2 separate regions of the Homo sapiens genome follow, and region 1 is linked to region 2. The links come from fine-mapping of genetic effects on gene expression. A gene starts in region 2. The other region holds a variant in brackets. All regions are shown on one strand. Distances are from middle to middle. Region 1 overlaps VEZT (vezatin, adherens junctions transmembrane protein). Region 2 holds the start of VEZT (vezatin, adherens junctions transmembrane protein).

Region 1 (4,397 bases), 80 kb after region 2:
GAGAGACAGAAGCGTGAGCATGAAGAATCCAAGAGGGTGCTCCAAGAATTAAAATCTGTGCTGGGATTTAAAGCTTCAGAGGCAGAAAGGCAGAAGTGGAAGCAACTTCTATTTAGTGATCATGGTAAGCACTGACTTTAAAGTAACAGGTTATTTCAATGTAGGGGATTCTTTCTTTCTTGAACCATGAATGTTATTTTAGCTGAAGAATTCTTGGGGTTTTATAAGGGTCCACCAGTATGCATAGTACTTTTTCTTCTAGATGCTAAATCAATTTGATTAATAAAAGAGTAGGAATGTAACCACATTGGAAATATGAAGTCATACTTTTTTATGAGTTATTTAATTTTTTAGTAAATTTGTTTTAGAATGGGCAGTGAGTTGAATAATTTGGGATATTTTAAATGTTATTTTCAAATTTAGTGAATTTGAGATTCTCAACTCTGTTGTCCATATGTTAAAATATTTAAAAATACCTCAGTGAAGCACAAAATTAATAACTGTGCTCACATTGAAAAAAATGGCCCAGGCGCAGCGGCACATGCTTGTAATATCAGCACGTTGGGAAGCTGAGGCGGGTGGATCATTTGAGGTCAGGAGTTCAAGACCAGCCTGGCCAACATGGCGAAACCCCATCTCTACTAAAAATACAAAAATTAACAAGGCATGGTGGCGCGTGCCTGTAGTCCCAGCTACTCGAGAGGCTGAGGCAGGAGAATCACTTGAACCCGGGAGGCGGAGGTTTCAGTGAGCCAAGATCACGCCACTGCACTCCAGCCTGGGCAACAGAGGGAGACTCCATCTCAAAAAGAAAAAAAGAAAGAAAAGAAAAGAAAAGAAAAAAAAGGAATTAAAACCTAGACCAGTGAGCCACATCATTAGCATTATTTAAGTGGTTTGAGCACTTTAGTAGATGGGAGGGGAGCAGGGTGCCTGTGGGCGTACTCCCCATACTCTGATTTCAGCAGAGTGGGGTAGCTGGTAATACAAAAGCCTTACATTCCTTTCTGTTTCTCACCCTTCTTTTCTTAAGTCAAACTTCATGGGAGACAGGGAAGGAATCAGGGGAAGCTTAATACTTGACAGTATCAACCTAGCTAATTCTTAGTTGAATTAATGCCTATGGATTTCTAAGTAGGTAGAGTGTGGATTCTCTTCCATTTTACAGTATCTGTGTGGACCCTCGAAATCAACTGCCCTGCTTTTCCCTCCTCACTAGAAGTACATAGATTACCTATACTTCTGGAAAGTTCCTCCAGTTCTCTTTTTTTTTTTCCCCTCAGGAGCCCTATGTTTTCTCCTGTCCAGATCTGCATTTCTTGGTTTTATCATTCCTCTTTCTTCCCATTGGCCCCCTTTATAGCCCAGGTCCTCAGTAGATTATCCTTGTACATTAAAATACCTTCTTAGCTGACTTCCATTTTCAGTACTTTTTTCTTCTAAGCTATCTTGCAAACTCTTTGCAGATTTTTCTCCAACACTGCATTGATGATGGCTCTCTATCTTAAAACCTATAGTGGTTTCTCCCTTTCTTATTGTGTTGAATCTAAACTCTTTTTCCTGTTTTCAAGTCTCTTCATCATAAGAATTCATCTATCCAATTATATTTTCTACTGTTTTTACTATAGATATCTTCTTATGTTTATCGAATTAAACTACAGTTCACAAATGTGTTATTTTTATTCATGAAAAAAATTCATGCTGGCCAAGCACAGTGGCTCACGCCTCTAATTCCAACACTTTGGGAGGCCAAGGCAGGTGGATCACTTGAGGTCAGGAGTTCAAGACCAGCCTGGCCAACATGGCGAAACCCCCTCTCTACTAAAAATACAAAAATTAGCCAGGTGTGATGGCGCACACCTATAATCCCAGCTGCTCTGGAGGCTGAGGCAGGAGAATCGCTTGAACCTGGGAGGTGGAGGTTGCAGTGAGCCGACATCGCACCACTGCACTCCAGCCTGGGTGACAGAGTGAGACTCTCTCTCAAAAAATAA[T/A]AATAATAATAATAATAATAATAATTCATGCTTACCCCTTTACCAAGAATTCTGCCTTCTCCACCAAGCTGTCCTCTCTACTAGTCTCTCCTTCTCCATGAATCCTTCTCTGAGTGCTCCAGCTCTGCCGCCTCTCCTAACACTACAGACCCTCACACTAGAGGAACATTGTGATAAAATATAAAGGAAGTCTTGAACCCCAAAGCATATAGCAGAGAAGGGAAATGATTAACAGATTGATTTCCTGCAATCTGTTCATTCATATACTGGGCCTACATACATCAGAGATTAATTTTAGGCACTGTTGTTTTCTATATGTTCAGGGTTTTGTTTTGTTTTGTTTTGTTTGTCTCTGTAACAAAATTACAGTCTTCTTAAATAGGGGCCTTATTATCCCACAGCATTCATTCAGCAAATTACTCATTCAACAAGTAGTTATTAGGTACTTGTTATATGTCAGGCACTGTTTACTGCTGTATCCCTAGCGCAAAGATCAAGAGACAAAATGTAAAGCCTCCTACCTGCCTCAAGGCTTAAATTCTAACACACTCGTCAATTGATCCTCTCATTACTCAGATTATATCCACCCCATTTAATTAGTAATAATTGTGAACTATCAACCAACTTCTAATATATGTTGCTTCCTTTAAGAGCTAACAGATTTATAAACTAAGAATGTACATATATTGAAAATAGCATTGTATATAAACTTATATCCTTTTTTATTGTTTAGTGTTTCTTCATATAGCTTTAAAATTATGCTATTGACATTATGGGAAAGATTTATCAATGAGAGAAATGTGTCTCTTTTTCAGGTATGTGCTTTTGATATAGTTTACATTGGAAAGGGTCATAATGCTGTTTTAGTTTGTGAAAATAAGTAAAAAGCTGCTGATACCATAGAATGCTTTTCCCATGAAAAATTTCAGTACATCTTCCAGAGCTGTTTTCATCTCTGCCTACAGGGGTAAAGTCCGCATGGAATTAGAGGGGGAAAGTCTGCACTGGAACCTGCTGTGGCCATTTTTTTTCTGTTGTTGCTGCTTCTCTAGTGGAGTTACTGCAGCTTAGGGATGGTTCCTGGAAGTGGACACATTTTACAAAAACGTTTTTTAAATACACGCCAGCTCTTCGAGAAGCACTTTTTTCCTTCCGTCATGCTTCATACTATATTGTATTGTACTAACCCCTCATGCTGGGATGAGCGACTGCCTAGCAAGCAACCCACTGCCTACTAACATCAAGAGGGGCTAAATAAAACTGCATTTTCCTTGCAAGGACAACTTCTACCGTATGAATATATATTATATTTATGTATTATATTTTGTACAATAGTTGATCTTGAATGCAGACTTCATTTGTATTTTTCGTGGTACTACAAAATGTGTAGAAGTTATGGCTTTTCTTTCATTAGGGTCTTGTTAGGTGGTTGGCAAGTAAGTTAAATTGTATGTTGCATTTTTTTCCATGCTGTTTTAACTTGTAAATATATATGTATACATATGGAAGATATTATTATTATCTAGATTACTTTAAGCCTTTTATCTGATGTATTATCAGTGAAAACCATGCTGCTTATTCCCTAATACAATGGTTCTCAAACTTTAGTGTGTATCAGAATCAAGATGAGGGCTTGTAAAATATAGCTGGTCCCTACTCCCAGAGTTTCCATTTCAGGAGGTCTGGGATCAGGCCCAAGAATTTGCATTTTTAACAAATTCCTAGGTGATAACTGATAATGTTGGTTCAGGGAACACACTTTCAGAACCACTGCTTTAATATTTTAAATAAGATAATATGTGAGGTGTCATAAAAACCTTCATCAAATCCCTATCTCATTTCATTTCTTAGGCATTTTCTCTCTTATAAAGTTTCCTGGATTTATAAATTTTCATTGATTTTACTAGAAAGTTTTATTTAGCTTTTATTTATTTATTGTTCTTTTTAAGAAAAAAACTGAGAGTTTGAATTAAAAGTTTAAATCATTGCTAGGTCCTTAGTTATTTTTTTTCTTTTTTCTTTTTTTTTATTTGAAGCCGTGTTGAAATCCTTGTCTCCTGTAGACCCAGTGGAACCCATAAGTAATTCAGAACCATCAATGAATTCAGATATGGGAAAAGTCAGTAAAAATGATACTGAAGAGGAAAGTAATAAATCCGCCACAACAGACAATGAAATAAGTAGGACTGAGTATTTATGTGAAAACTCTCTAGAAGGTAAAAATAAAGATAATTCTTCAAATGAAGTCTTCCCCCAAGGAGCAGAAGAAAGAATGTGTTACCAATGTGAGAGTGAAGATGAACCACAAGCAGATGGAAGTGGTCTGACCACTGCCCCTCCAACTCCCAGGGACTCATTACAGCCCTCCATTAAGCAGAGGCTGGCACGGCTACAGCTGTCACC
Region 2 (4,397 bases):
CATTATTTTAGGATAATTCAAATGCAAGAATCATGAACTTCCAGTCTGGGCCCTAGAAATTGGGTTTACATAAATGTGAAATTACATGCTTCTGTGCCTGTTCCTTATAAACTGTTAAGACTGGAATTGAAAACTGATACATATAAGACACGGTTATTTTAAATACATTTGACACCTCCAAAAAGGAAAGAGCTAAAACTGGCTGGAAGGATTTTAAAATTTCCAACCACTTTTAATTTAAATCAATTTCTTGAACGAAGGTAAGGCACAGAAATGTAGGATGAAAATAATTTACCTTATGTAAGTATAAAGCCTCCCTTTGGCAAAGAAAAGAGAGTTTATAAAGATATCTCATATAAGTGCATATAACATCAAAAAGGAAAGACCCACACAACACCCACTTCTTGCTTTCTTTTCCTATTGGCTAACTTCTTGTTTCGTTTGTTGTAATCTGATCACAGGGAGCAATGCAACACTACAATATATCTAGGCTTTAGAAATAATACAAATCAGAACATTTGAGTGCTGTTGGACAGTTTCAAGTTGCAAGAATTTTAAACAAATGCCAAGAAAAGCAATGAAAATTTAATCTGATACTTAAGTGCTGATTCTGGAAGTAACCTTGAGAAGAAGCTTTAAACTATTTCACTATAAAATTTCTAATGAAAGTTTCAACGTGGACAAAAACGTAAAATAACCCATAACACTCTACTTAATACATAAGTTCTGGTTTAAAAATTAACCTATGTACTTACGAAGTGAACGTAACACCACTTTGGTAATTATTTTGTAAAACAGAAATTGTTCCTTAAGAATGTTCAGAAACACAACGTCTAGAATTGCTGAAAATCCACACAAAGATAGAGGCTTTGTCATTTGGATGAAGGGGAAAGAACTATGGGAGGCAGACAGAAAATAAAGCTTTGTTTACCCTAATCAGGTAGAAACAAACAAAATAATTGTAATTGGGTGCAGACAAGCAAAAAAAAAAAAAAAAAAAAAACCTCAACAATCTCAACTCCTCTGCTTCTCAGGTAACAGAGGTAAAACCACCAGGACATGACAATGTCTACGCCTCTTTAAAATGGGTAAAAGGTTTACCAGCAGATACAAGGTTGAAAGCGACTCACTTAGTGGCCAAATTGAACACGCTGAGAACACTGCCTTTACCTATAATAACTGATCTATTAACTTGGGAATCTACACTATTTTCACATGCAAAGGCGAAGTCCTCGCACTGCTGGAGAGATGAGCGAACGCCCTTCACACATCGCATTTCACCTGGTGCAGAGCCCCCAGCACAGTCCCCCTTGGAAGGGAGATCCCGAGAAATCCCGGGTTTCCAAACAGCCCCTCTGGGCAGGAAAAGACGAGAAAGCCGGCAGCGAATCCCATTAGCTCCGCGCTTGCCGAGGTGCTCGGCAAAGGTACGGGGCACACAACTCGCCCACCCCGGCGAAGAAAGTTGCTCGCGAGCCCAAGCCTAGCAGCGCTCGCCACAAACTTTCCCGCGGCAGCGCGAGCGCCGTCACTTACCGGCTGCAGAAGTCATGATTCCCCGGTGCAGCTCGCTTCCCCGCTCGGCCCCTCAATCCATCTTCCCCTTTCAGTCCATTGTTCCCACAGTTCGGGTAGGAGAGAAAAGCCCCCGCAGCGCCCACATTCCGTCCCGCCGCCCCGCGGCGCAGCCTGAGCGCCACACAAAGGACGCGGCCGACTCTAGCGACCCTGCGGCGCTCCCGGGCGCGAGCCGCCGGGGTCGGGCGGGCGAGCACTAGCACCGCCCCGCAGAGCGGCAGGCTGACAGCCAGGCGCGGGCACGAGCAGTGCTCTCTTCGGCTCCGCTGGCGCGTGCCCTTCTCGGGCTCCAAAAATCAGCAGTGCTCCGGGCGCCCCCTGCTAGTCGCGGCCGTAAAAGGCAGACAAAAGCCCTAGCCTCCTCCAATCGGAGGGCTCGAGCTTCAGCTCGCTCCCGCCTCTCTCGCTTACACGCTCACTCTCTTCTCCAATAAGCGGGCTCGAAAAGGGGGCGTGAGCGGCGAGGCATATTGGGAATTGTAGTTTTCTGGACCCACGGGACGGGCAGGAGCTGGAGCTCCGTGCCGCCTGTACTCCCGCCTTCATTTCCCATCGTGCTGAGGCGGGTGGCATGGCGGAGAAGGATGACACCGGAGTTTGACGAAGAGGTGGTTTTTGAGGTAAGAGGAAAATGGCGGTGGGTGTGGATTGCCTTTGTTTGAGAAGGACGAGACGGAAATCGAGGAAGCAAGGCGTTCCCGGGGCGAGGGATCGGGTGACGCGCTCCAGCTGGCCTCGACCACCGAACCCCAGCGATTTCAGGGCCTAGAGTCCGTCGTCGCCTGACAGGTGTAGCCAGAGGCGCCCTGGCCGTGGCCGGCCTCTATCTCGGGCCCGCCCAGAATTCCCAGACGGTGCCCGGTTGCCAGGCTCTGGGCTGGAGCGGTGTCTCTTCCTTCCTGGGAATGGATGTGCGGCGGGGGGGACTGCGCCCGGCTGGGGCGGGGCCGAATCGTGCCTTTTAGATAGTCACAACTTAGCCTCCTCCTTTTCCATCCGCGATTTTTTTGGGTCAGTATCCAGAGTGCTTCAGGTCACTGTTCACCGTCAAGGCGTGGCCCTCGGAATGAAGGCAGCAGGTGCCCGTTTTCTAACACGGTTTAAAGTCTATTTGTGGGACCTACTGTGGGTAGTTAGGGCCAGGGCATCTCAGCATCTAGATTCGATTCTTTTGTCCTTTGCTGTTGCGCTAGGTGTAGCCAGTTCTTCTGACTCGGGGCTCTAGATGTGAGTGCTTTTGTGTGGGACTATTTTAAGACGTTCTCTGCCATCTTGAATGAAAAAAATCGGGCGAGTGTTTTTGATGCCATTTTTTTCCATCAGACACAGGTCAAAACTCGCACCCCTGTACGTATGTGTATTGCATGTATACGCTTTACTTTCATTTATCCAACTAGATTTTAAGAAAATTTAAAAATGAAGTGGCCCATGCCATACAGCGAGAGAGCGAGGCACAGACAGGACAGAATGCTAAATGTTGAAATATGTACAAACTGTCATTGAAGGATTAATTTCTGTTCTTGCGGCCTCCCAGAGGCTACACCCAGTACGCGATATCCGAGGTGAATCTTTAACTATGAATTGGATTAGAAAAACCGGCAGGAGAAAATGTATTACAGGGAAAGAGAACTGATTATGCCAAGCTTGGGAAGTGTGAAAGTACCTGGTGTGCATTTTTAGGGGGCGGGGTGTGGAGGGTGGCTATGTAAAGTGGCTTGATGTGGCTGCAATGAAGAAGCAGTGGAAAATGTGGCCATTTTACCGAAGTGAAGAGTCTAGATATGAGGCGTTCATTAGGGAAGACAAGGGCCTGAGATGAAATGAGAGACGTAATGGAATAATGGCTTGGACAGACACTTGTAAGTTAAAATCGAGGCAATGTTTATAGATTGAATGTGGTAGCTGAAGGAGAGAGAAATATTTTCTAGAGTAAGGGTAACTGATGGGTGTATTTTTTTTACCCATTATTTTTGATTTCTGAATATAATAGTAATATATGCTCAAGGAACATTTTATTGTAGAAAATAAGCCCCCAAGTTAAAATCATCCATTATCCCACCACCCAAAGATGGTAACTATTAACAGTACGGTATGTGTTCTTATAGACTTTATTTCTATGTAAATGTGTGTTTATGTGTGTGTAATTTTTTAGCCTCTATATTAAGACACAATGTGTGTGTGATATTTTTTAAAACAAAAGGTATACCACGTAGAATTTTGTATATATTTTTCACTTGACTTTATCGTGAATCTTTTCCCATTCATCATTCTCTGAAAACATTAATATTATAATATCCCCTCACGTGTATCATAATATAACCTTTTTTTAAAAAAATACCATTGTAATCAACAGTGATATAAGCCTATTTTTAACTACAACTCTGATTTTCCTCAGAATAATTTTTAGAAGTAGAACTAGTGGGTGAAAGAATATGAACATTTAAGACTTACGCAGAAAGGTTATACCAATTCCGGTTTCCATTAAGAATAAGAGAGTATTGGTTTCACCAAATCCTCAACAACAGCCTTAACAGTTTCCTTTAATCTTTGCTAATTTGATAGGCAAAAATAACATTCCATTGTTTTAATTTACATTTTATGCATTTATACATTTATTAGCTATTTTTATTTCTTTGAACATTTCTCTTCATATTTGTTGCTCATTTTCTTATTAGATGCTAGCTTTAAAAAAATTGACTTGCGTGAGTTCTTCATATATTACTAAGCCTTTGTCATACTTGCAGAAAAATTTCCAGTTTGCTGTTTGTTTGCTCTTTGATATACACAATTTTTATTGCAGTATAATTTACATAAGGACA

Evidence for each region. PIP is the estimated chance that this variant, and not a neighbour inherited with it, causes the effect.
Region 1: its variant is the best candidate, but not a certain one, in a credible set for the expression of VEZT in whole blood (TOPMed, PIP 0.79).

The regions. Positions count from the first base shown.
Region 1 is chr12:95,296,135-95,300,531 of GRCh38, forward strand. VEZT (vezatin, adherens junctions transmembrane protein) reads left to right here. Exons shown (of 12, transcript NM_017599.4): 11 at 1-124; 12 at 4,031-4,397. Among named protein-coding and RNA genes, the nearest start is that of MIR331, 10 kb to the right of the region's middle. The variant T/A (reference allele first, on the strand shown) is at 1,995.
Region 2 is chr12:95,215,689-95,220,085 of GRCh38, forward strand. It overlaps VEZT (vezatin, adherens junctions transmembrane protein), which reads left to right and starts at 2,119. Exons shown (of 12, transcript NM_017599.4): 1 at 2,119-2,198. The coding sequence starts at 2,163. It overlaps FGD6 (FYVE, RhoGEF and PH domain containing 6), which reads right to left and starts at 1,779. Exons shown (of 21, transcript NM_018351.4): 1 at 1,537-1,779. The coding sequence starts at 1,552. RefSeq lists enhancers at 1,443-2,037, 2,038-2,633, 2,098-2,337, 2,938-2,987 and a silencer at 1,638-1,867.